Regions from separate parts of the Homo sapiens genome. Here regions 1 and 3 are each linked to region 2. Evidence: fine-mapped expression QTL. A gene starts in region 2. Each other region holds a variant in brackets. All regions are shown on one strand. Distances are from middle to middle.

Region 1 (8,179 bases), 39 kb after region 2:
AGGAGTTTGAGTCCGGCCTAGGCAACGTGGCGAAACTCCAGCTTTACCAAAAGAAATATGAAAAATCAGCTGGACGTGGTGACATGCACCAGTAGTCTCAGCTACTTAGGGGGCTGAGATGGGGATATCGCTTGAGCCCAGGAGGTAGAGGCTGCAGTGAGCCATGATTGAGCTACTGAATTCCAGCCTGGGTGACAAAGGGAAAAAAAAGAGTTTGGCTGTTGATATGAAGTGCTTTCCTTTATTGTGAGAGCTTGAGGAAGTCACACCTGAAGGGTCTGGCATTGTCATCAGCACAACAAATGTATGTGAACATATAACCCAGGGGATCCTGTCTGGTCTAACGTCAGGGAGCCAAAGAGAAAAATCGACTTTCCTAACATCAACTATATTTTTATTCTTTTGCTGCAGCCAATGCCGAGTTCTGCCCAGCTCTTGTTTCTGAGCTGTTAGACTTCTTCTTCATTAGTGAACCTCTGTTCAAGTTAAGTCTTGCCAAATTTGATGCCCCTCCGGAAGCTGTTGCAGCCAAGTTAGGAGTGAAGAGATGCACGGATCAGATGTCCCTTCAGAAACGAAGCCTCATTGCGGAAGTCCTGGTAACTTCTTTCTCCTTTATTTGTTAAGGCTTCTGGTCAGCTGCACAGTATGAAGTGAGGTCAGCTTGCTGCTCTGTTGGGGACACAGGTGGTGGGGCAGCTGCCTTGCTGGTCACCTCTTGAGAAGGTCACCTGGGGCCACAGGGTGGGTGCCACCATTTCACCTGCAGAATTCAACTCAGCTGCACACAGCCTCCTGCATGTTCCTCCTTCTCATGTCACCTGCCTGGATGCCATGTCCCCAGAGTGTGCTGAGGACATGGGGAGTGAGCCTGGGCCCAGGCAGAAATGGTAAAGGGCCAAGCATGGCCGCCTCGCTGCTGGGAGCTTTCCTGAGACCAAACTGCCCTCATGTAATGGACACAGTCACTGTGGAATGTCCTGGGGAGCATGGGAGCCTTGAACAGGGAGAGGAAGGCAGGGAGGGACATAGAGCAGGGGCTCCTGCAGATGTAGCACTGGCAGGCTGGACTTCTCTGCAGCTTCTGCAGAGCCAGGAAGGAGCCCCTCCCAGCTCCTGAGACCCCATACTCCCCTCCACACCCACGACACTCTCCTGACCATGGCCAGTCGTCCAAGACCCTAGCTAGTCTACCTCCTGCAGTGCCATGGAAGCGGGATGTTCTCACTCTGTCTTTCTCAAGAAATCAGAGGTTTTCCAGGGGCCTCTCTGCCTGGCTGCCTCTGAGTTGCTGTCCTGAGGTTTAGCTGCAAATGCTCATGGAAGCTGCAGGCTCGGGACTGAGAGGTGCTCGGGCCCTGAGGCAGAATTCCCACATGGGGAGGCTGGAGTCTCCTGGAAGCCAAGCTTCCCAGAAGCCCTCTCAGCCCTGACCAGCCTCTCAGTCCTGGGTCCCTCACTGCAGGAACCAGGAGACTCCAAGCCCTGGGACAGCCCAGGCAATAACCTCTTGCTGCTCTCTCCAACCCTCGTCACTTGCTTCCATGAGGATCCTGGGCCTCATTCCCGGATCACCCCAGGGCTATTGGCCTGGCAAGAAAAGGCTGCTCCATCACCGGCATGGGTGCTGTGAGGCCACCAGGTCTAGGCCTCAGTTTCCCAAACTGAGTTGTTGCCTCTGCCCTTCCAATTGCCTTTGGGGGCAGAATCCCACTGGCCTCTTGGATGTGAGCCTGTCACCTCCAGCAGCAGCATGACTGACCCCACCTTCTTTTTTCTTTTCCTATTTTAGGTGAAAATATTGAAGAAATGTAGTGTGTGACATGTAAAAACTTTCATCCTGGTTTCCACTGTCTTTCAATGACACCCTGATCTTCACTGCAGAATGTAAAGGTTTCAACGTCTTGCTTTAATAAATCACTTGCTCTCCACGTCTCCACTGGTCTTGTTATAATCCTGCAGTCTCGAGCCTTGAGTACAGGGTGGTTTCCATAGTGGAGTGGCCTTTTGCTGTGGGTGATAATTAACTCCAGAGAACCAGCATCCTGTTACTAATGGGGCCTGAGTCCAGGTGTCACAGAGGAGAATATTTGGTAGGAATTATCCTGCATTCCTTACAGATTTCCCATCTTGCAGCCGTGAATAAAAACCATGGTAACAAGGACACAGGAATTGAAATGTTCCACTGGTCTTACACTGAGAGAACCCCCAGCCTGAATGGGTATCCAGGCCGAGGGTTCCCACCTATCAGTGACTTTACTCTGATGTCCCCTCAGACCCACAGTCAGCCTGCTTGGTGCTCTCTCTGCACTATGCTTTCTGTCCTCCGTCATGTCCAGTATACTTCATTTTCCACTTATCACAATTTGGGGTCCTCTTTAGGTTTCAACCTGGAGTTCACATTGTTTTACTCCCCACGCTCAGAGCACTCCTCAGCGTCTGCATCACTCACCAGCACCTGAGGTGAATGCTTCCTTCCTCAAGCTCTCCCAAGAGCTCCAGAGACCAGCACCCCCTGACAACTGGACAGCTCCCAGTGCGCACTCCACAGTCATTTCAGGAGCAGGATGTAAAACTGAGCACAGGGTCTGCCCCCAGCCTGCTCTCCCTTCCATGAGCCCATCCAGGCTAAGGCACCCACCCAGCAAGCACCCTGACCAGGACACAGAGAGACACCACAGTTTCCCTGCTTGGTGTCCTGTGACTACTGGAACAAAAATCTGCAAACTTCATGGCTTAAAACGACTGATTCTCAGGCATCTCTGGGGGTCAGAAGTCCAACATTAGTATCACTGTGAAGACGTTAGGGGGCAGCAGGGCTCCGCTCCCTCTGGGGACTCTTGGGGGGAATTCACTAAGGGTTGCTTCTGGCTTCTGGGCTAATAATTGTCCTGGTCCTGTGGCCACATCACTCCAACCTCTGCCTCCATGATATGTTCCCTTCTTTTCTTTCTACATCAACCCCACCCACCTTGGCTTTTTTTTTTTTTTTTTTTTGAGAAGGAGTCTCGCTCTGTCGCCCAGGCTGGAGTGCAGTGGCACCATTTCGGCTCACTGCAAGCTCCACCTCCCGGGTTCACGCTGTTCTCCTGCCTCAGCCTCCCGAGTAGCTGGGACTACAGGCGCCCGCCACCATGCTCGGCTAATTTTTTGTATTTTTAGTAGAGATGGGGTTTCACCGTGTTAGCCAGGATGGTCTTGATCTCCTGACCTCGTGATCCACCCACCTCGGCCTCCCAAAGTGCTGGGATTACAGACGTGAGCCACCACCCTGACTTTTAATCACAAAATACACAGGTTTGGTTTTGGGACCCTGCAGATTATTCAGAATAACACCCCATCTCATTATGTTTGATCGTGTCTGCCAAGTGCTTTTTTTGTCATATAATGGAACATTCACAGATTTCAGGAACTAGGATGTGGGTATCTTTCAGGGTGGACATGAGGCAGCCAATGACAGCTCCCCTCCCTCCTGACTCCTAACAGTGCACTATGTTCTATTCCCTCCATTGCCCCAGAATCACCTTTACGAGTTCCTTCTTTCCCATCACACAGTCATATCACAGTCTGGTCTATGTCCTCCCCAGCTCTGACCAAATTCTTCTACATTGTCTTGCAGCCTCTATGAACTCTTCTTACTATACATCCTCCTCATTCATGCCAGGGTAAGTCTCCTAAATTTAAAATGTGATCCTATTCTCTTTTCAACAACTCTAAATGACCAGAGGGCACTGGTTCTCAAGGCTTTCAAGTAAGGGAAATTATTTTTTTACCCCAAGCCCATCTTTTTATGATAATAGTCACCATTACACAATTGGCAGGAGAGTAGATAACAGTTGTTATTAATTAAACATTGCTTTTAAAAGAAATTTGTATTTTAATCACACCAGAAATTATGTACACTTAAAAATAGAACCAAGATATATCAAACTTACTATCAGCAGGCATAGCGTGCTGTTGTGTGTGGCAGATACAAGGATTTATGGAGCTCTCACATCACTGGGAGAAAACCAGAGAGGAACCACTGCTGGAGGAGCGAGTCCACACCCTTGTGTTGCACACAAGGACCTTCAAGACCTGCTTCTGGGAGCCTTTGTCTCCTCCTCTCCTCTTCCCTGGGGCACTCTGTGCTCAGCCATACTTGTTTATATCTCATTTTTTGGGCCTCATGTGAGTCACACCCCTGCATAAGTGCATAGGGGTCTCCCTTTCCCTGTATAGCCATCTCTCACGATGACATCTGACAATCTCATCTATAGAATCCACTTCATATGCCTCCTCCTCTGTGAAGCCCTCTCAGATATCCACACCTTATATTTTATCTTTATACACATGTGCACCCACATGCCTAGACATTCCTCTTTTATTATCAGTTTACCTTTCTGTTATATAGGATGCATATCACAGCATTGTTGTGAGAACATATTAAATACATTAATACTATAAAGCACTCAACAAATTATAACAATCATTATTATAATGCTTACAACTACTAGAAGTTTCTAGTCATTGATCATCCTGATATGCATTTTGTTGGAAGAATTCCAAGTTCTCTCTCACTTCATCATCAGTAGTGCCCAAGAAGGTCCAAGATTGTTCCCACTAATGAACATGAGAATGACGAATGCCCTACCCAGTGGTCCTCAACCCTGGTTCTGTTTTGGAATCCACTGGGAAGCTGTCAAAATCAAGTGATGCCCAGGCTCCATCTAGTGTATATGTGTCTATCTCTGTGAAAGTAGAGCTCCTGCAGTCCCTGTTCTTGTGCCTTCAGCTCTATGGGTGCAGTCATCCAGTGACCTGGGGAGGCAATATCTGGGACAAGAGTCCCTTGTGATACTCACAGGACTCCCAGCATCACCAGGGCTGTGACCTGGAGGCCTTTTCCTTAGCTACTTTCATCGCTTTTAAAGATTGGAGATTGC[A/G]AAGTGCTCACTCTTTTCACCATTATACAGCTAATCACATAGGGATCATCTGTGGTAAGGTTTTCCTTCCTGAGTTGCTATTAAAAGAGTGTGACGTGAAATTCAGTAAGACTGCACAGGCTGGGGCAGGGAGGGAGGGCATTAGGAGTCATTATTTAAGGGCTATTGAGTTCCTGATTGGGATGATAATAATTTTCTGGGAAGGAATATTGTGAAACGTTGTGAATGCCTTTAAGGCCACTGAATTATACACTTAAAGATGGTTTGAAAAGGGCAGGGCATTGTGGTTCATGCCTGTAATCCCAGCGGTTTGGGAGGCTGAGGCAGGTGGATCACGAGATCAAGAGATCGAGACCATCCTGGCCAACATGGTGAAACCCTGTCTCTACTAAAAATACAAAAATCAGCTGGGTATGGTGGTGTGCACCTGTAGTCCCAGCTACTTGGAAGGCTGAATCAAGAGGATTGCTTGAGCCAAGGAAGCAGAGGTTGCAGTGAGCCGAGATCGCGCCACTGCACTCCAGCCTGACAGAGTAAGACTCCGACAAAAAAGAAAAAAAGCACACACAATAAAAAAAAAACAAAACAAAACGAAACACTCTAAGGGTTGCTGCTGTCTGGGAGGCAGCAGGAAGATACCTGTGAAGGGGAGCTGGGCCTGTATTTTACCTCTGGACACACCCCCCCCAAGACCTGTCGGCATCCCACAGTCAGCACTTCTCTCCAAGTCCATGCTCTCATTGATTCACTTCCTGGATTGCTTCTTTGATGGAGGTATCACAATTTCTAAGAAAATCTAATCCAGAAACCTGAGATTGAGGTTTACCAAGGATGTAGGATTCACCCATGCAGGGTCTCCAGACTTTTACCCCTTAAGGCTGTCTCCCATGACCATTGAACTAAGTAGAGTCTCATAATTTCCCCCCTGGACAAATATTATCAATCTCTGCCTAGGCTCTTTTTCTCAAATATCTTGTCCCTATGATCCATCTGGCATTTTATGATAAGCCCAATATTCTTTTTTTTTTTTTTTTTTTGAGACGGGGTTTTGCTCTTGTTGCCCAGGCTGGGTTCAAGCGATTCTCCTGCCTCAGCCTCCCGAGTAGCTGGGATTACAGGCATGCACCACCACGCCCAGCTAATTTTGTATTTTTTAGTAAAGATGGGGTTTCTCCATATTAGTCAGGCTGGTCTCGAACTCCTGAATTCAGGTGATCCACCCACCTCGGCCTCCCAAAGTGCTGGGATTACAGGCGTGAGCCACCACACCTGGCCTGATAAGCCCAATATTCTGATAACAAAGCTTAGGTTTTGTTATAGGCATCTTTAAAGTATATCTTCAATGGATCTCAATTTTCTTTTAATGAAATAAAGCTCAATATCTCAATTCATAAATTAGAATATTCAAGTTTTTGTAATAATCACAACCTCACATTGTTTAAGAATACATGTTGTTTTCTTTCTTTCTTTATACTTCCATCTATTCTCTCCCAATGAACTAACCATGGTTTCTGACAGAGTTAGAATCTAGGAAAAGAGGAAAGAGAAGGAAATCAGAAAGCTCTGAATTAACTTGCCCTTTTTTGTGATTGGTTCAGGCTCTCTGGGTCTGTCAGATGTTTTGTGTCCTGGACAGTTCCATGAGTGCTTCTGAAAGCCCACACTACCTAGGTAATTTTCTAGAATAAAAAGATTGAAAAATCTATAGAAATCCACTGATTTCCCATACCAAAACAATTTTGATCATATTTTGGAACATCATCTTAAATAAAAGCCCCCCACTTTTTTTTTGGAAGAAACAGCTAGACACTTACAAGAATGGAGAATAATAATGGAACCAACACAAGAACAGGAAGGCAGAGCAGTAACACTCAGAATTCAGAGTATTTCAACCTGTAATTCTACACAGATGTGAATCTACATCCAGGCTACAATTATTCAAGCATGAAGACAAAATAAAGATATTTTCAGGCATGCAAATCTGCAAACATTTTATCACCAATGAACTTCTTTTCAGAAAGTTATTGTAGGATATGCTCCACCAAAAAGAAGTAGAACAAGAAAGGCAAAGATGTGGGATTGGATACACAGGGATTATAATAGGAGTTACTGGATACATCAACAGAACAGCGAGAAAAGATTATTGAGAACACGGAAATACCCCCACAGGAAAACAAGCTGAAAGTGAGAATGGGACTGGGAGGTCTGCAGAGGAAGGGCAAGGAATAATCACTTTTAATAAAACACTTTTTTGCATTATATTCCTTTTCAAAACATGCATCTATATCAACTTTTTAAAAATTAAAACTGTAAAAAAAAAAGGATGTTGGAAAACAAATAAAAAGGAAAGGGAGCATAGAAGAAAAGGGGCAAAAAAGTGGGCAGAGAGGAGATAATTTGGCAAAAAGAAGTTAAGAAGATGCAAATGGCCTCAGGTCAAAGCAGAATCTACACCACACTGTACCATGGAGGAAGATAGTATATTTTGCTGAAAGAATTAATGAATTTCCTTAAAGAATTAATTAGCAAGTTGAATGGGAAGACAGGACGTAGAACTAAAGAAAGACACAATGTATATCACTGAGATGAGATCTTACTACACAAATTAAAAGCCTGCAGACATTCAAGGAAATATCAAGGAAGGCTTGCAGAAGAGGTGATGGCTGAGTTGGACCATGAAGCACCGAGAAGATGAGGATGGCAAGCAGAGGAAGCAGGGCCTCCAGGTGCATGGAGCAGCCTGGGCAAAGGCATGGACAGAAGGCTGAGCCAGCCCCCTGGAGGACAAAGATGACCACACTCCTTTTGGCATCTTGAAGGCTCACAGATATTTCTCTAGCACAGGGTTTCTCAATCTTAGCAGTAGTGACATAGAGGGCAAGTAATCCTTTCTTGTGGGATCTGTCTTGTGCATTGTAGGAGGTTCAGCAGCACCCCTGTTCTCTGCCCACTTGATGCCAATAGTATCTGGGCTGCCATACAGCTGTGACAACCAAAAACATCTCCAGACTAATGTCTTCAGGGATGGGGAAAGTTGGGAGTAGATGTGTCCTAGTTGAAAGTCACTGCTTTGGAGTGGGAAACCTTGTCAGTTCTGCTATACAACTATACTAATACTTCTAATGATCAGACTTTCACAAAGTTGGAATTACTACAGGTACAAGAAAATAGGGACATTGAAAATAAAACAAATACCAACTTGATGATGAAAATGTTAGTGCAGATATTTGAAGAACCAAATCAGCAGTCATACA
Region 2 (8,179 bases):
ATGGTGTGTTAATTAGCTTGAATTAATCATTTCAGAATGCATATATACATCAAAACATATAAACCATAAATAAATATAATTTTTATTTGTCAATTTACCTTAGTAAAGCTGGGTAAAAAATTAAAAAATGTATGTAAACATGTTCAATAAATTGGAACTGGTTTCTGGGAAGATTAATATGGTAATACTAAGTAGAAGATGCTTGGGTGATAAGTTATTTGTAAATTATTTCAATAAAACTCTGAGGCTAGTCGTGGTAGTTCATGCCTATAATCCCAGCACTTTGGGAGGCCAAGGTGGGCGGATCACTTGACCCCAGGAGTTCGAGACCAGCCTGAGCAACATGGCGAAACTCTGTCTCTACCAAAAATACAAAAATATAGCTGGGCGTGGTGGTGTGCGCCTGTAATCTCGGCTACTGGAAAGGCTGAGGCAGGAGGATCGCTTGAACTCAGGAGGCAGAGGGTGCAGTGAGCCAAGATGGCACCACTGCACTCCAGCTGGGGCGACAGAGCAAGACCCTGTTCCAAAAAAAAAAAAAAATCATAAAACCAAAAAACCTCTGAGGAAAGGGGAACGCTGAAAAAAAATCAAATACACATGGATCAAAACACAGAACTTTGTTTTCAAACTTAAAAGTTTTAGCTTATATCTGAATAGTTACTCAAATATTTTAGAGAATATTATGTGGAAGCCGAGTTTCAGTAGTGTCGAACAGTCCTAGTGGTCCTTGGAGTTTACCATAAATACATTTTTTTATTATTCAAAAATAATGGCTACCAGCTGACATCTGGATAGCACCTGCTTTGTGCCAAGCACTGTTCTCAGGACTTTCCACTTTTTACTTGTGAATCACAGCAATTCTATGACTGTTCCCATTTTAAAGGGAACACACAGCATTAAGTCTCCTGTCCAATGTGGCAGTCAGCAAACGGAGGAGCTGTGATGTGAACACAAGTGGTGGTCAGGCTCCGAGTCCTCACTCACCACCCACCTGCCATCCAACCCTTACGAGAAAGGGCTGCAGAACCTGCAGAGATGGGACCCAGCAGTGCAACACAGCGGCGCTCAGCAGAGCTGCAGCTTCTCAGGCCCTCCCTTCCCAGATCCTTCCTGGGAGTCTTGGGAATGTCCAGCTGGGATGGGACTGCCCCATGGAATAAGGGATTTTATCCTTTCCTTACTTTTCAATCATCTGACTCCTCTGGGAGTCACCTCCGGCATCTTCTGAATTTATCCATCTTTAACCTACCTCTCCCTACCCACAGCCTCCCCTCAACCTCTGAGCCAGAGGACGTTTCTCCCACTTAAGGGAAAGCACCCTTTCCCTCCTTTGGCCTTCCAGAGCCCTTCATCCATCTCTCTCTGCACCTCTCCTTTCCCGTCCGGGCTTATAGTCTCCTGTGTGTGTCTCCCCAGGCCTCTCAGAGGTACAGAGGGTCACAGGTCTCTTCTGACAATTGAGTGAGTATGAAAAACGCACCACCGTCACGTGCATCTTGGGTGTGTGTGTAAGGGGAAGGGGGTTCTTCCTTGGTTGCTGTAGACTCCCCATGGAAGCTACAGCCTCTCCTTTCCTCAGCCCCATTTCAGAAAGGAGAGGCCAGAAAGCGTTTCTGATGCTTGTGGTCTCTTTAGAGGATTCACCCTGTTCCCTTCACTCAATCCCAACCCCGTGTCACCAGATGTATTCACCCCTACGCAGGGGGAGGTCAGTCTTTGCAAGCTTCTGACACATTTTGGGACACTGAGCTGGAATATGGGGGTGCTGGGGTGGATTGAACACTGAGCAACTCAGACTTGGAATCCCAGCATGAGGCTCGGGCGCGAGGGAGGCGCTGGGTCTAGACGAGGCCTTGGTGACTTGAACAACAGGCATATTGCTGCCAACAAAGATGGCTCCAAGACCAGAGGCCTTTCCTGAAGTTCTGTTCTGTGTAAGAAGGTGACTGACAAGGCAGGGCCACAAGGACTGGGGCACCAGGCAGAGCCCCAATAAGTACTGGCCAAGGAGACACTCTCACATTTCATAATCAAGGTCCTTCACTACCCTTGGGAAACAAGGCCACCAGCCAGGGTCAGCTGTGTACAGTGGTAAGTAAACAACACTTCTCCTTTCTGTCCTCCCCAAAATTAGGTTTGTTCTTGGCCACTGAGGCTCCACCTGAATGGTGGAAAGAAACATGTCGCAAGTAATCCAGAGAGAAAACAATGCATTCACAGGGAATTAACAATGGATTCATTCCTCTGGCTGTTTCATCGACTTCTTTTTTTTTCTTTTTTCTTTTTTTACCTGAGCCAACTTTGTTTTTCTTGTTCCTATGACCTTCACTGTGCCCCTAATTAAACAGGGATGGGCTTTCTATCATGTGAGGCTGTCCCGTCCTTTTCCTGATTCTATGTGGCCACGTTCCTTCCCTTCCTTACCTTGCCAGTGCCATCTGTCCTCAAGCTTCTGTACTTGCAGTTCCCTCTCCCTGGAATTCTCTTCCCCAGATGTGTCCTTGGACATCACCATCCACTCATCCAAGTCTCAGCTGAAACAGCACCTGCTCCTACAGGCTGCCTTGGGGGGCTTACAGGCCACTGCCCCTGGGCAGGCCATCTATGACAGCATTCAGCTGTTGTGAATATTTTGTTGTTCTTTGCAGCAATGACCACTTTCTCATACCTCTGATATATCTTTAGTCTTGTTCTTTGTGTCCTTCATTAGAAAATAAGGTCCACAGGAGCAAGCACCTGGTCTAACCTGTTTCTATAACTGAATCTAGTGCAAGGCCCAGCTCACAGGAGAAGCAAAACAGTGATGCGTACAACAAGGGATCCACGCATGAATGCAACTGCCATTTATTCAGAATTATCTCATGCTTGGCTGCGTGATTAAAAATTTACAGAGCGTCGGCCGGGAGCGGTGGCTCAAACCTATAATCCCAGCACTTTGGGAGGCCAAGGTGGGTGGATCACGAGGTCAGGAGTTTGAGACCAGCCTGGCCAACATGGTGAAACCCCCATCTCTACTAAAAATACAAAATAAATAAATAAATAAATAAATAAATAAATAAATAAATAAATAAAAATTAGCTGGGCGTGGTGGTGCACACCTGTAATCCCAGCTACTCAGGAGACTGAGGCAGGATAATCGCTTGAACCCGGGAAGGCTGAGGTTGCAGTGAGTTGAGATCACGCCACTGCACTCCAGCCTGGGCAATAAGAGTGAGACTCCATCTCAAAAAAAAAAATTTACAGAGTATCTCTCATCTTTACAAAAATTCACGGCCAGGCGGGCACGGTGGCTCACACCTGTAATCTCAGCACTTTGGGAGGCCGAGGTGGGTGGATCACCTGAGGTCAGGAGTTCGAGACCAGCCTGGCCAACATGGAGAAACTCCGTCTCTACTAAAAATACGAAAATTAGCCGGGCCTCGTGCCACATGCCTGTAATCCCAGCTACTCAGAAGGTTGAGGCAGGAGAATCGCTTGAACTCGGGAGGCGGAGGTTGCAGTGAGCCAAGATCGTGCCACTGAACTCCAGCCTGGGCAACAGGGCAAGACTCTGTCTCGAAAAAAAAAAAAATTCAGCATCACTTATACCCGTTTCACAAAGACAGAAAGGAAGCCCAGAGGGACCAGCATTGTAATTTGCCCAAAGACACAGCATGAGTACGTGTGGCCTCCAGGATCCACACCCACACCTGCCCAAATCTTATCACCTAAATCTCATCATCACCCAACCCCATTGCCACCCACTGCCTAGCACTGCCTGCCCAAGCAGTCAGTTACTCCACTCACTCACAGCATCCTCTCAGTCAGTGGATAGAAAACCGTAAAAGGCTAACAAAGAACTAAGCACAAATTAAATTATAAATATATTGTAAAATAAATTTGTAAAGTTGAATTAACTTAGTGTTGTAATTCTTAACAAGAATAACAAGAAGCTTTCAGTAGAGGTTAGATATTAATGTTTTCCCCAAAACTTAAAGCACTTTTCGGGGCTGGGCATGGTGGCTCACGCCTGTAATCCCAGCACTTTGGGAGGCTGAGTGAGGTGGATCTCCTGAGGTCAGAAGTTCGAGACCAGCCTGGCCAAAATGGTGAAACCCTGTCTCTACTAAAAATACAAAAATTAGCCAGGTGTCCTGGCGCATGCCTGTAATCCCAGCTACCCAGGAGGCTGAGGCAGGAGAATTTCTGGAACCCGGGAGGCGGAGGCTGCAGTGAGCCAAGATCGCACCACTGCACTCCAGCCTGGGCAATAGAGTGAGACTCTGTCTCAAAACAACAACAACAACAGCAACAAAACCCCAAAAAACAAAAACAAAAAAACCCGCTTTTCTGAAAAAGAAATGTCTATGGATTAGGAAGGTCTGCCTCCCATAGGAAGATGCAGGTATTGCACATAGCCCAAATATTTGATGATTCCAGGACCGGCAGATACACAAGTTATGAAACTGTTTGTACCTTGAAGAATAACGAGAAGAGGAGGAGACCAAGAGGAATAGAAGAAAAAGAATAGAAGGAGGAGGAGGAAGAAGGGAAGGAGGACTAGAAGAAAACTACAATAATAACAACATTGTTGAGACCACAAGATCACGCCACTGGGTTTTGCTTTATATTTTGGAAAACACTGTCACATCCATTTTACTAAAAGCCATGTATCATTATTGTAGTCCCCAGATTGTCAGGGATCCAAATATTACTGCCTTCTTGGTTTCTACAAACAGAGCACAGGCTGGCTGTGTTCCCATTGGTGTACACTATTGTGTCCTGGTCCCATGCCAGGTTGACACATTGCCTCATTCCTGGGAGGGACTAAGGTGCCTCCCTGGGGAATAAATAGAGCAGGGCTGGGTACTCACCTCCACAGCAACTTCCTTGATCCCTGCCACGCACGACTGAACACAGACAGCAGCCGCCTCGCCATGAAGCTGCTGATGGTCCTCATGCTGGCGGCCCTCCTCCTGCACTGCTATGCAGGTGAGTTCTGGGCAGAGAGGGCTGCTTCTGGGCTAGGAATTGTCACCTGGGCCCCTGTAGAAGAACTCCCAACCTCTAATCCCCAGCACAGACGAGCCCCAGTGTGAAGGGCCTGGGTGCGATAGGCCTTAGGATCCCCATGAGTTCCTGACAATCAAGCATGCAGTGTCCTCATGGGCTGTCCCCTGCATTGGAGCTGCACACAGTGTATCATGGCACTCAGCGTCTCACCATGGTCACGGTGACCATAGAAACCAGGATGAGTCTCAGGATTAAATATTGAAATGAACTATTTCAGTGGGGCAAGGGAGAGATGGCATCTACACCTAGAAATCAGGAAATAATCATGGGTCTCCTTGAATATGGAACGAAATAGGAAACCTCCCAGGACAGAAGGCCCAGGCTGCAGAGTGTGACCCAGTGTCTCTCACCCTGTGTGGCTCACTCTGTGTTCTCAGAGTTGATCTGGGTCCTTCTGGGATGCCCTTACCCTCCCAGTTGCTTCAGGCTCAAGGCAGACAGGTGAGAACTCACAACCCCTGGAGTCTCCTTCCAGCACTAAAGATTCAGTGGGAGGAAAAAGCCCCGGCTGCTGGAATCAGCGCTAATATTTCCATAGGTAGCCTGCCTTGTGCAGTTCACAAAGGTGGATTCCAAACCCTACCGTATTGGCATCCAAGGTAGGTGCAGATGTGTAGAAGGGTGACAAGCTCACAGTCAACTAACTGGAAAATCACAAAGTCCAGAGCACAACCAGCTCACATGAAGCCACGTCCTGAGCTCGTTCCTCTCCCTTACAGTGGGAGGTGACCTCAGATCCCCTCATGAACAAGCTCTATTTCACATTCATGTGTGTGTGTGTGTGTGTGTGTGTGTGTGTGTGTGTGTGTGTTTGAGACAGGGTCTTGCTCTGTCACCCAGGCTGGGACTGGGACTGGTGTGCAATGGCACAGTCTCAGCTCACTGCAACCTCTTCCTCGAAGGCTCAAGTAATGCTCCTGCCTCAGCCTCCCGAGTAGCTGGGACTACAGGTGGACACCACTATGCCTGGCTAATTTTTAAATTTTTTGTAGAGATGAGGTCTCCCTGTGTTGTCCAGGCTGGTCTTAAACTCCTGAGCTCAAGCAATTCGCCTGCCTTGGCCTCCCTAAGTGCTGGGATTACAGGCGTGAGCCACCATACCTGGCCACACATTCCCTTTTATTGCAGTAGAGTCAACAGAACTAATGGACAATGTCCTAGACCCATTCATCTGAAATCCTTGGAAACCCTACCTGATGCTGGGCATGATAACAGGGAAGCATTGCATGACTTTGAACCAAGAAAGTCCAAGTAGTGTTTGCTATGTCCCCCCAGTCAGAACACCTCATTTCTCGAGGGTCCTCTTCACCAAGAATACACAGGGTTGGGCTTCTCTGGGTTTGGAAGGTCAGAGAGAATTTGCAGAGCCTGAGTTTACACTCCCAGAATTGAGAACTCTGCATACTGCACCAAAATCTTTCTGAACCTCGGTCTGTCCCTGGAGGTACGAAGATAGCCAGCTTCCCAATTCATCTGTAGAATGAATCACACCTCTAGTAATGGCCCATGTTCTTGTGTCTTTTTTTTTTTTTTTTTTTTTTCCAGATTCTGGCTGCAAACTCCTGGAGGACATGGTTGAAAAGACCATCAATTCCGACATATCTATACCTGAATACAAAGAGCTTCTTCAAGAGTTCATAGACAGTGATGCCGCTGCAGAGGCTATGGGGAAATTCAAGCAGTGTTTCCTCAACCAGTCACATAGAACTCTGAAAAACTTTGGACTGATGATGGTAATTTGGGTTTCTTCTTATGTACCCTTTGAAAATCACTGATCAGAACCAGCGGGCTCTAAATTTGGCACCAAGAATGCCAAGCAACTGGTGAACAAACTTTCTTTATATATCAATTCATTAAACTTTGTCTCCAGGCTGCTTTGCCACTTCACATTGAGAATCTTTAGGGAGTGATAAATGGAAAAGGCAAAAAGGAGAAAAGAAAGCCTTAGAGATCACCCGTCTACCTCTGACCTCACCAGTCCCTTCTCACACAGACACAGACACACATAAGCACACAAGTATAGACACACACAGACACACGGGGACAGGCATCGGCATTTTTTTTTTTTTTTTTGAGACGGAGTTTCGCTCTGTCACTCAGGCTGGAGTGTAGTGGCGTGAATCTCGGCTCACTGCAACCTCCACCTCCCGGGTTCAAGAGATTTGCCTGCCTCCACCTCCCGAGTAGTTGGGATTACAGGTGTGCGCCACCACGCCGGGCTAATTTTTGTATTTTAACTAGAGAAGGAGTTTCACCATGTTGGCCAGGCTGGTCTCAAACTCCTAACCTCAAGTGATCTGCCTCCCTTGGCCTCCCAGAGTTCTGAGATTACAGGTCTGAGCCCCCGCACCCAGCCAGAACATGCACATTTTTATCAAGAGAAAATATCTGGTTCTCAAGAGATCACACACTTGTAGGAGCAATCTACTAAGAAATTTCCTACTTTCACAAAAACAAATATTCAAAACATTCTTATTTTTTTTTATCTAGCTCAGAAAATACAATTTGTGCAAATTCTGCATTTTCTAAAATAAAGAAAAAAATTTTTTTGAGATGGAGTTTCACTCTGTTGCCCAGGCTGGAGTGCAGTGGCATGATCTTCGTTCACTGCAACCTCTGCCTCCTGGGATCAAGCAATTCTTGTGCCTCAGACTCTCAGGTAGCTGGGACTACAGGCATGTACCACCATGCCCAGCTAATTTTTGTATTTTTAGTAGAGATGAGATTTTACCATGTTGGCCAGGCTGGTCTTGAACTCCTGACCTCAGGTGATCTGCCCGCCTCGGCCTCCCAAAGTGCTGGGATTACAGGTGTGAGCCACTGCTCCCGGCCTAAAATAAAGAATTTAAAATGCAAGTCCAAGCAACCAAGATTTGTTAGCATACATGACTGGAAGTCATGCACCACTTAATTAAGTGCCTCATGAAGTGGGAAGTGCAGATTATGGGTATGAAACAGCACGAGTGCTAGAATTGTTTAAAACAAAAGTCAGTGGTTATAACAAGGAGTATTTCTGTCTGTTTATAAAGATGTGTTGGTTACGAGTTTTGTTTTTTGTTTTTCGTTTTTTTCGAGATGGAGTTTAGCTCTTGTTGCTCAGGCTGGAGTGCAATGGCACGATCTC
Region 3 (8,159 bases), 81 kb before region 2:
TGAGCTCAGGCAATCCACCCGCCTCGGCCTCCCAAAGTGCTAGGATTGCAGGCGTGAGCCACCGCGCCCGGCCAGAGATTCTTTTTTTTTTTTTTTTTTTTTTTTGAGACGGAGTCTCGCTCTGTCGCCCAGGCTGGAGTGCAGTGGCGGGATCTCGCCGGCCAGAGATTCTTTATAGGACATATTAGTCCTTGTCTTTCCCCCCCCGCCTCCATATTGGAAAGATGAACTAATTGAAATATGACTTAGTAAAAACATTGTGCCAACTTGAAACCTTGATTTAGTAAAACATCTCAATGTTTAGATCCTTTGTCCAATGGTAGTATTTATCAGATGTATTCAGCTTGCTCAGAAAACCAAAAGGGCATTACAACCACAAAAGCAAAGAAAAATAAGAAAACGTCCCATGTTTGGATCTTGTTCTACTTGTAAAGATTAAATTGAAATGATTAGGCTTTTCGATTCATGAGCCAAATACCGTAACACCCTGGCCTTTGATGGGTTTGGATTTTTAACATTACTCCTGAGATTTCAGGAAGTGGGGTTACAGTTACACTCCTTATAGCTGCTAAGTGTATTAAGTTGAATGTAAGGATGCATAATATTGTTTGAATTGAGCCCCACTACCAATTCTTTAAAAAATGGCATGAATTCCTATACGTAAATGATTTGGTGGAACTATTCCATCATAATTTCTAAATTGTTTATATACCAAGGTAGCCTTAATTTGTATATGTTTCAGTACAATGAAATTTTACTCCCTCTGGGATGCTGTTTGGTTTGTATTTTGAGGAATGTTTTTCTCATGGGAAGAGGAACCTATGACTTCTGTACCTAGATAATTTGTTACATTAAAAAGCTGGTCTTTCAGCAATGTAAGTATATACATACATGTTTTTATGAGGAAAAAAAAGCAGCAGAGATCAGAAGACTGCCACCGTGCTTGGAGAAGAAAGAAAGCCGCGCGTGGCCTTCGCAGTGCTCGCCGGGACTCGTAGTTCCAGGTCTGCGGGCTCCTCCCAGGCGGGGATCTACTTCCTCTCTCGGCCGCGGCCGCAGCACCCGGAAGCTGAGGGGGCTTAAAGTCTTTCGCTTCCTTTCCCCGCCTCTTAGTCCCGCAGATTGCTAGTGGATATGGCCAATAGGAGGGCTGACTGGTACTTCCTGTTATTTGATTGGCTTAAAATTTTGCAACCGCCCGGACAAACTTGCCGAGGATTGGCTGAGCCTTCAGTTTTGAAAATCATAGTTTTCGCCCGCGCTGCGCCGCCTGGTTGCTCCTCCCGTGCGGTGAGTCCCGAAGGCCCGGAGCCAAGTGGGTCTGGGCAAGCGGGGCCTTACCTAGGGATACCACCGGACTTGGATCGGAGCAGCCTTCAGGGGACGTGGCGCAGTCGAGTGAGTGCGCGTGGGCGTGGGGATTGGGGGGTGGTTCGCGATTTTTTCCCCGGTCCTCTGCTCCGTCCCTGTCGACTCCGGACCAGGGTCGTGACTCCCCACCCCAGCCCCTGGCTACCTGGGCATATGAGGGTCACCTCTTCCAAGTGGCGAGGTCGCCTGCCTTGGTTCTCGGGCCCGAGATGCCTCCCACCCTTTCCACCTAGGCCCTCAGCTTCCTAGAGCATAGCCCCGTTCCCTCCGCTCCCGGCTGCTTGGCACCTTGTGCCTGTGAGGATTAGTGTTGACTTGGACGCGCAGGAAGCCCGAAACCAACCCGGTTGTTTGGCGGAATGATGCCAGATGGCATTTCTGTGCAGTTAAACCCCTCTCTCAACGCCCCCGCCCCCAGCTGAGCAGCATTTTAAACTGACCATTTCCGGAGGCTGGGCCGCCCCTTGTCACTCCCCAAGCCTGTTCGCTGTCAGCGGTTCAGTCTCATTCAGCTAACATGGGTTGCTCGCGGGGTTGCCCAGAGCCAAGACTGGGCACCTGCCTTTCAGAAGTTGATATCTAGAAGGCGGTATAGCCAGTGGTTAAGGGCACGGTTTAAAGGCGGTATAGCCCGTGGTTAAGGGCACGGTTCTATTTATGCCCCTGATTTACCGGCTGATTTTGACTTCTCTTTGCCTCAATTTCCTCATCTGCCCATGCGTATCCTCAAGGTTGTGGTGAGAATTAAATGAGATGATGTCTGACTCGGGCATGGAGTATGACTCAGTAAATGGGAGCAGCTGCTATGCGCTTTCTGCACAGAGGTGTGGTAGGCGCCCAACTTACAGCACCCTGAAAAGGACAGGAGTCATAGAGGAGGACGATGGGGCCTTCAGTCTGGTGTATGGTGTGGAAGAAGTGTTGGAGAGGAGGAAGACTGGAGAGTGTCTTCCTCGGTGAGGTGTTGAGTGCTCTTTATCTGTGTGCAGGTGCTTACATGGGTTGAAGAAGAGATTTTTGCTGCTCTTCCAGGAGCCTGATTCTTGGTACACTGATTCCTTCTTTTTCAGGGTCACCTCTGTTTTAACTTACGGTAACCCTTTTTAAATCGTTGCGCTAAGGTCTGCTAGAAGCAAACCTCCCCGTGAAAGAAGTCCAATTGCTTTCATGGACTTTGTGAAAGAAGCTCTCATCCACGTTGCCCATTTGAACAAATACTTTTTAAAAAGTTAGCCAGTTGTTGCTTTTCTCTGCAAACCTTTGGCTTCCTTAAACAGTTTTCTCTTTTCTGGCCTGAGGTCCTGCGCTTTGCCAGGGCTGTGGTCTGGGTGCAGAAGGGTTAGGGGAAGGTGAGGGATGACAGTGAAAAGGGCTTGCCCATGATTGGCTGGCTGCAGAGCCGAGGTTTCAGCCCAAAGCCTGTACGATCCTGCCCATTTGGCCCTGCCCTGATTATTGCTGCCCTTGGCATCTGGGAACAGGGGTTTTGAACATGTGTTGGTCAGTTCTAACCTGTGCAGATTAAGTTTATTTGGTGCCCTTTGTGTGGTGGGATGAGCACCTATAGGATGTTTATTTCTAGGTGTAGAGTTGATGGGTGGATTAATTCATTTAACAAATAGTCCTTGTTGCCAGGCACTGCTGTGCTCTGGGCATTCAACGATGAGCAAGACAGACAGGGGTTTGCCCTCAGAGAGCAATTGTTTAGTGGGCAGGGACAGGCAGTAAGCAACAGGTAAACAAGCACGCAAGTGCTCTGCAGAGAATTACAATCAATGAATGGGATCATGGCTGGGGCTACTTTAGATTGGTTTTCAGGTTTTCCTGAGGATCTGAGATCCAAGCCATGAGGAGTGAGCCATACAAAATGTGAGACAATGTTCCAGACGCAGGGCAGAGCTTGTTGAGGAACAAAGACTACTGTGTCCTTGAATCAAGCCTGAGGAAGTCCCATGAGACTGAAACCTGACCTGGTGCTACGCCCTGTGAGGGATCAAGGGGTCAGCAATTTATCCCTTCCTTACAAGACCTTCCATTGTAGGTGGGAGGCTGAGTTGTGCATGGTTTTTTTTTTTTTGAGATAGAGTCTCCCTCTGTTGCCTGGGCTGGAGTGCAGTGGTGTGATCTTGGCTCATTGCAGCCTCTGCCTCCTAGGTTCAAGCGATTCTCCTGCGTCAGCCTCCTGAGTAGCTGGGATTATAGGCGTGCACCACCACACACAGCTAATTTTTTTGTATCTTTAGTAGAGACTGGGTTTCACCACGTTGGCCAGGCTGGTCTTGAACTCCTGACCTCGTGATCTGCCCACTTCGGCCTTCTAAAGTGCTGGGATTACAGGCGTGAGCCACCGTGCCCGGCCAGTTCTTGGTTTTAAAGAGGTAAGTCAGGATGGTGGATCACTGCCATTGACTTGAGGCATGCAGTTTGTTGTTATGGCTTATGACCACCACCCATTCATTTGTTCTTTCACTCATTCACCTGTTGGGATATTTAATGAGCCCCTGTTGTGATGTAGTAGAATATGGTTGTCTCTTGGAATCCTCAGGGGATTGGTTCCAGGACCTCCTTTGGATACCAAAATCCACAGATGTTCAAGTCCCTGATATAAAATGACATAGTATTTGCATATAACCTACACACATCCTCCTGTATACTTTATATCTCTATATTATTTATAACACCTAATATGATGTAAAAGCTATGCAAGTAGTTGTTATACTGTATTATTAGGGAATAATGACAAGGGAAAAGAGTCTATACATGTTCAGTACAGATGCAGCTCTTTTTCAAATATTTTCCACTGGTGGTTGATTGCATCCATGGATGTGGAACTCACAGATATGGAGGGCTGATTGTACTTCTTCCTTGCTTGAAGTTTTTGTAATGGCTATCAAGTTTTTTGTTTTGTTTTTTTTTTTTTGAGACAGTCTCGCTGCGATGCCCAGGCTGGGGTGCAATGGTGTGATCTTGGCTCACTGCAACCTCCACTTCCTTAGTTCAAGTGATTCTCCAGGCTCAGCCTCCCAAGTAGCTGGGATTACAGGCGCACACCACCATGACCAGCTAATTGTATTTCTAGTAGAGTTGGGGTTTCACCACATTGGCCAGGCTGGTTTTGAACTCCTGACCTCATGTGATCTACCTGCCTCGGCCTCCCAAAGTGCTGGGATTACGGGTGTGAACCACTGCACCCGGCTGGTTATCAAGTTTTAAGGAGGATACCTGAGCTGCTAGTTTTATAAGAAAGTGAGAAAAAACTGTTTTTGTGTTTTCTCTTGCTCAATGCTTGTAGGCAAGTTTTCTTAAAAGCAAGATATTGCTTACTGTTCCCTTCTTGTTCTATTTATGCTCCATTTGGAGGGCATTTCAGCTCAAGGGAGAGGGTTGTGGGAGGCCCCTTGAGGGCATATCTCTGGATCACTACTTTCTCACTCATTCCTTTGGAACACAGAATCTCTTCTGCTCACTGGCCTCTTAAAGAGGCAGTTGGG[T/C]TTGATGTTCTTTGGCCTGATGTCTGGAGTCAGCTTGTATGTAGTGCAGGGTGGCTGTGTCTTAGCCCTCACTTAACCATGAGTAGTAAGATGAGGGCCTACTGGAGAGCGAGAGCAGGACTGTGTTTGGGCAGGGAGTGAGGGGCCCTGGGGTGGCCAGGAAGACAGATGGCAGTGCCCTGTCATCTTAAGCCCAGAAAAGGCCATTTATAAGGAGGACTGTCAATGTCAGAATTGGTTGGGAACTGTGGACTTATGGGGACAGTCATGCTGGCGGGGGGGTGGGGACAGGGAGGTATTTGAAGAGTGTGAGTAGAAGGGCTTCTCTTTGTAGAGATGAGGCTAGGGGATGAGTGTTTGGAATTCTGCAGCTCTGGGGAGTGGCTGTGAGCAGAGAGGGGCCCTGGTTCGGGCACTGGGTGTTTGTGGTGGTTGTGGGTCAGGTGGGTATTGCAGCTTGGAGAAAGCCCCAGACCCCTACCCTGGGCCCCTAACTTGTGCCTCTTGTCCCTGCCTTCACCAGACAGAGCCACCATGGGGACGACGGCCCCAGGGCCCATTCACCTGCTGGAGCTATGTGACCAGAAGCTCATGGAGTTTCTCTGCAACATGGATAATAAGGACTTGGTGTGGCTTGAGGAAATCCAAGAGGAGGCCGAGCGCATGTTCACCAGGTGAAGACGGGCACAGTGAGAGGCTGGGAACACCAGGGCCTGTCTGGGCTGCTTTGGTCTTGGGGACACAACAGCCCCTCGTCCCCGCCTACCTGGCAAAACAGACAGCCTGTCAGGGCTCCCTGCTGTATACTGTGTGTGCAGTGTGCTGGGGGCCTGACCTAGTGTCATGGGAAGAGGCAGCAGGAGAGATCCAGTCCCTTGCCTATTCGCCATCGTTGCTGGCTGGGCCTCTCAGGGTATGTGGCAATGGACGTGCGCCTGGGAGCTTGCTTCCCTGCCGTGTCTCCAGGAGGAAGCCCTGAGTGCCCGCAGGTGACTTGCACATGGCCTTGGAGAGCTCACTTGGTGCTGGACACCCCAGCTTGACCTGTCGCTGCCAGGAAATGGGCAGGGGCCAGGCTGGGTGGGAGAGGGGACCAGTGGTTCCCAGGCAGCCTCGAGTGACACCCTCCTTGTGCCAAACAGAGAATTCAGCAAAGAGCCAGAGCTGATGCCCAAAACACCTTCTCAGAAGAACCGACGGAAGAAGAGACGGATTTCTTATGTTCAGGATGAAAACAGAGATCCCATCAGGAGAAGGTAGGAGGGGTTGGGGGAGAGTGAGCTGAGCAGTGGGCTCTGCGGAGGCTTGGTGCCATCTGGGAGTTTGATTCTGAAGGTGTTGATTTGGAAGTAGCAGCCTGTAGGAGGGGTGGTGGGTACCACCGCGGGTACTGCGTGGGCCATGCTGAGAGGGGTTGGGATGCCACAGGGAACTATAGCTTGACCCAAGACCCTGGAGTCCAAATCTGTGGCTGTGTGTTGGGGGTGGGTGTGTTTGATCTGGGCCCTGGAGAATGGGAAAGATTTCCGTAGGTGGGATGAGAAAGAGAAGCCATCCTTCTGTTAGGTGAGTGTGACCAGGGGTGTAGACCACGTGCCTTGTCCCAGCCGTCATATTGTCATGCTTGTTTTAGTCCCCCTCAGGAATGATTGGGGCTGCAGAGTGCTAGGGAAAGAGGCTGGGTCTTGGGGTTAGGCTTGGGTGTGAACCCCAGCTCTGCCCCTTAGCAGAGCAGTACGGCTTTGAATTGAATTTCTGCCTCTCTGAGCCTCCGTTCCTCATCCCTAAAATGGGGATAGTGGTCTCTGCCTCTCAAGGGCGTGCTCTGGATTAAGGCAGAGCGTGTGTAAGGCTTTCAGCAGGGGCTCGGTGTGGTGTAACTTCAGTCAGCCGGAGGTTTGGATGAATATAATCTTCCTAGCCAGTTCTGTGCGGACTGTGGCATGATCCCCAATTTACAGTTAGGAAGACTGCGGCTCAGACAAGAATGGCCTGGGGCCTCATGGCTAGAGGTGGCAGAATCTGGCCTGGAACCCAGATCTTTTGCCTTCACCTTCTCTTATCATACTCTATCCAAGCTGGTGGCTCTTGGAGAGACTGGGTGCCACCCTGTCCTGCTGCCCGTCTCAGCCTCTGCCCTGCTGCCCCTGCCAGGTTATCCCGCAGAAAGTCTCGGAGCAGCCAGCTGAGCTCCCGACGCCTCCGCAGCAAGGACAGTGTAGAGAAGCTGGCTACAGTGGTCGGGGAGAACGGCTCCGTCCTGCGGCGTGTGACCCGTGCTGCGGCTGCAGCTGCCGCGGCTACCATGGCATTGGCTGCACCTTCTTCACCCACCCCTGAGTCTCCCACGATGCTGACTAAGAAGCCCGAGGATAACCACACCCAGTGCCAGCTGGTGCCTGTGGTGGAGATCGGCATCAGTGAGCGCCAGAATGCTGAGCAGCATGTCACCCAGCTCATGTCCACCGAGCCTCTGCCCCGCACTCTGTCCCCGACTCCAGCTTCAGCCACAGCTCCAACCTCCCAGGGCATCCCGACATCAGATGAGGAATCAACACCTAAGAAGTCGAAGGCCAGGATACTGGAGTCCATCACAGTGAGCTCCCTGATGGCTACACCCCAGGACCCCAAGGGTCAAGGGGTCGGGACGGGGCGGTCTGCGTCTAAGCTCAGGATTGCGCAGGTCTCCCCTGGCCCACGGGACTCGCCAGCCTTTCCAGATTCTCCATGGCGGGAGCGGGTGCTGGCTCCCATCCTGCCGGATAACTTCTCCACGCCCACGGGCTCTCGCACGGACTCTCAATCGGTGCGGCACAGCCCGATCGCCCCGTCTTCCCCGAGTCCCCAAGTCTTAGCCCAGAAGTACTCTCTGGTGGCCAAACAGGAAAGTGTTGTCCGCAGGGCGAGCAGAAGGCTTGCCAAGAAGACTGCCGAAGAGCCAGCTGCCTCTGGCCGCATCATCTGTGAGTCTGGGGGCTTGGCAGTGGCGGGTGGTCCTTGGTGCCAGGCTCAGATGGAGGCTTTCTGAGGGATCATCTAGCAAGGAGCTGTCCAGAGAGCTTTCTGCAGTGAGGTAGATGTTACACATCTGTGCTGTCCTGGGATGGTGGCCGCTAGCTGGCCTCATCTGGCGATTGTGTCCTCAAAATGTGGCTAGTGTGATTGAGGAACTGAATTTTAAATTGTATTGCATTCTACTTCTTTTAGATTTAAATAGTTACATGTAGCTAGTGGCTTCCACGTTGGATGGTGCAGGTCTGACCCAACCTACTTGCTTTACAAGTGAGGAAACTGAGC

Alleles and levels. Positions count from the first base shown, and alleles are read on the strand shown. Sizes are in standard deviations (SD) of each study's normalised expression. Not every link is listed here.
For the expression in thyroid of the gene that starts at base 4,861 in region 2, C is the high allele of the variant in region 3 and T is the other (moderate effect, 0.60 SD a copy in GTEx).

The links.
Region 1: its variant is fine-mapped to the expression of SCGB2A1 in sun-exposed skin (GTEx, PIP 0.95).
Region 3: its variant is fine-mapped to the expression of SCGB2A1 in thyroid (GTEx, PIP above 0.99).

What each region holds. Positions count from the first base shown.
Region 1 is chr11:62,242,878-62,251,056 of GRCh38, forward strand. SCGB1D2 (secretoglobin family 1D member 2) reads left to right here. Exons shown (of 3, transcript NM_006551.4): 2 at 412-599; 3 at 1,793-1,935. The coding sequence ends at 1,822. Among named protein-coding and RNA genes, the nearest start is that of SCGB1D2, 4.7 kb to the left of the region's middle. The variant A/G (reference allele first, on the strand shown) is at 4,926.
Region 2 is chr11:62,203,813-62,211,991 of GRCh38, forward strand. It overlaps SCGB2A1 (secretoglobin family 2A member 1), which reads left to right and starts at 4,861. Exons shown (of 3, transcript NM_002407.3): 1 at 4,861-4,974; 2 at 6,601-6,788. The coding sequence starts at 4,920.
Region 3 is chr11:62,122,766-62,130,924 of GRCh38, forward strand. It overlaps INCENP (inner centromere protein), which reads left to right and starts at 1,246. Exons shown (of 19, transcript NM_001040694.2): 1 at 1,246-1,398; 2 at 5,386-5,536; 3 at 6,005-6,118; 4 at 7,017-7,825. The coding sequence starts at 5,397. LOC124902681 (a long non-coding RNA gene) reads right to left here and starts at 946. Exons shown (of 2, transcript XR_007062697.1): 1 at 892-946. RefSeq lists enhancers at 857-946, 1,477-1,546, 1,536-2,117, 5,600-6,099, 7,126-7,627. The variant T/C (reference allele first, on the strand shown) is at 4,863.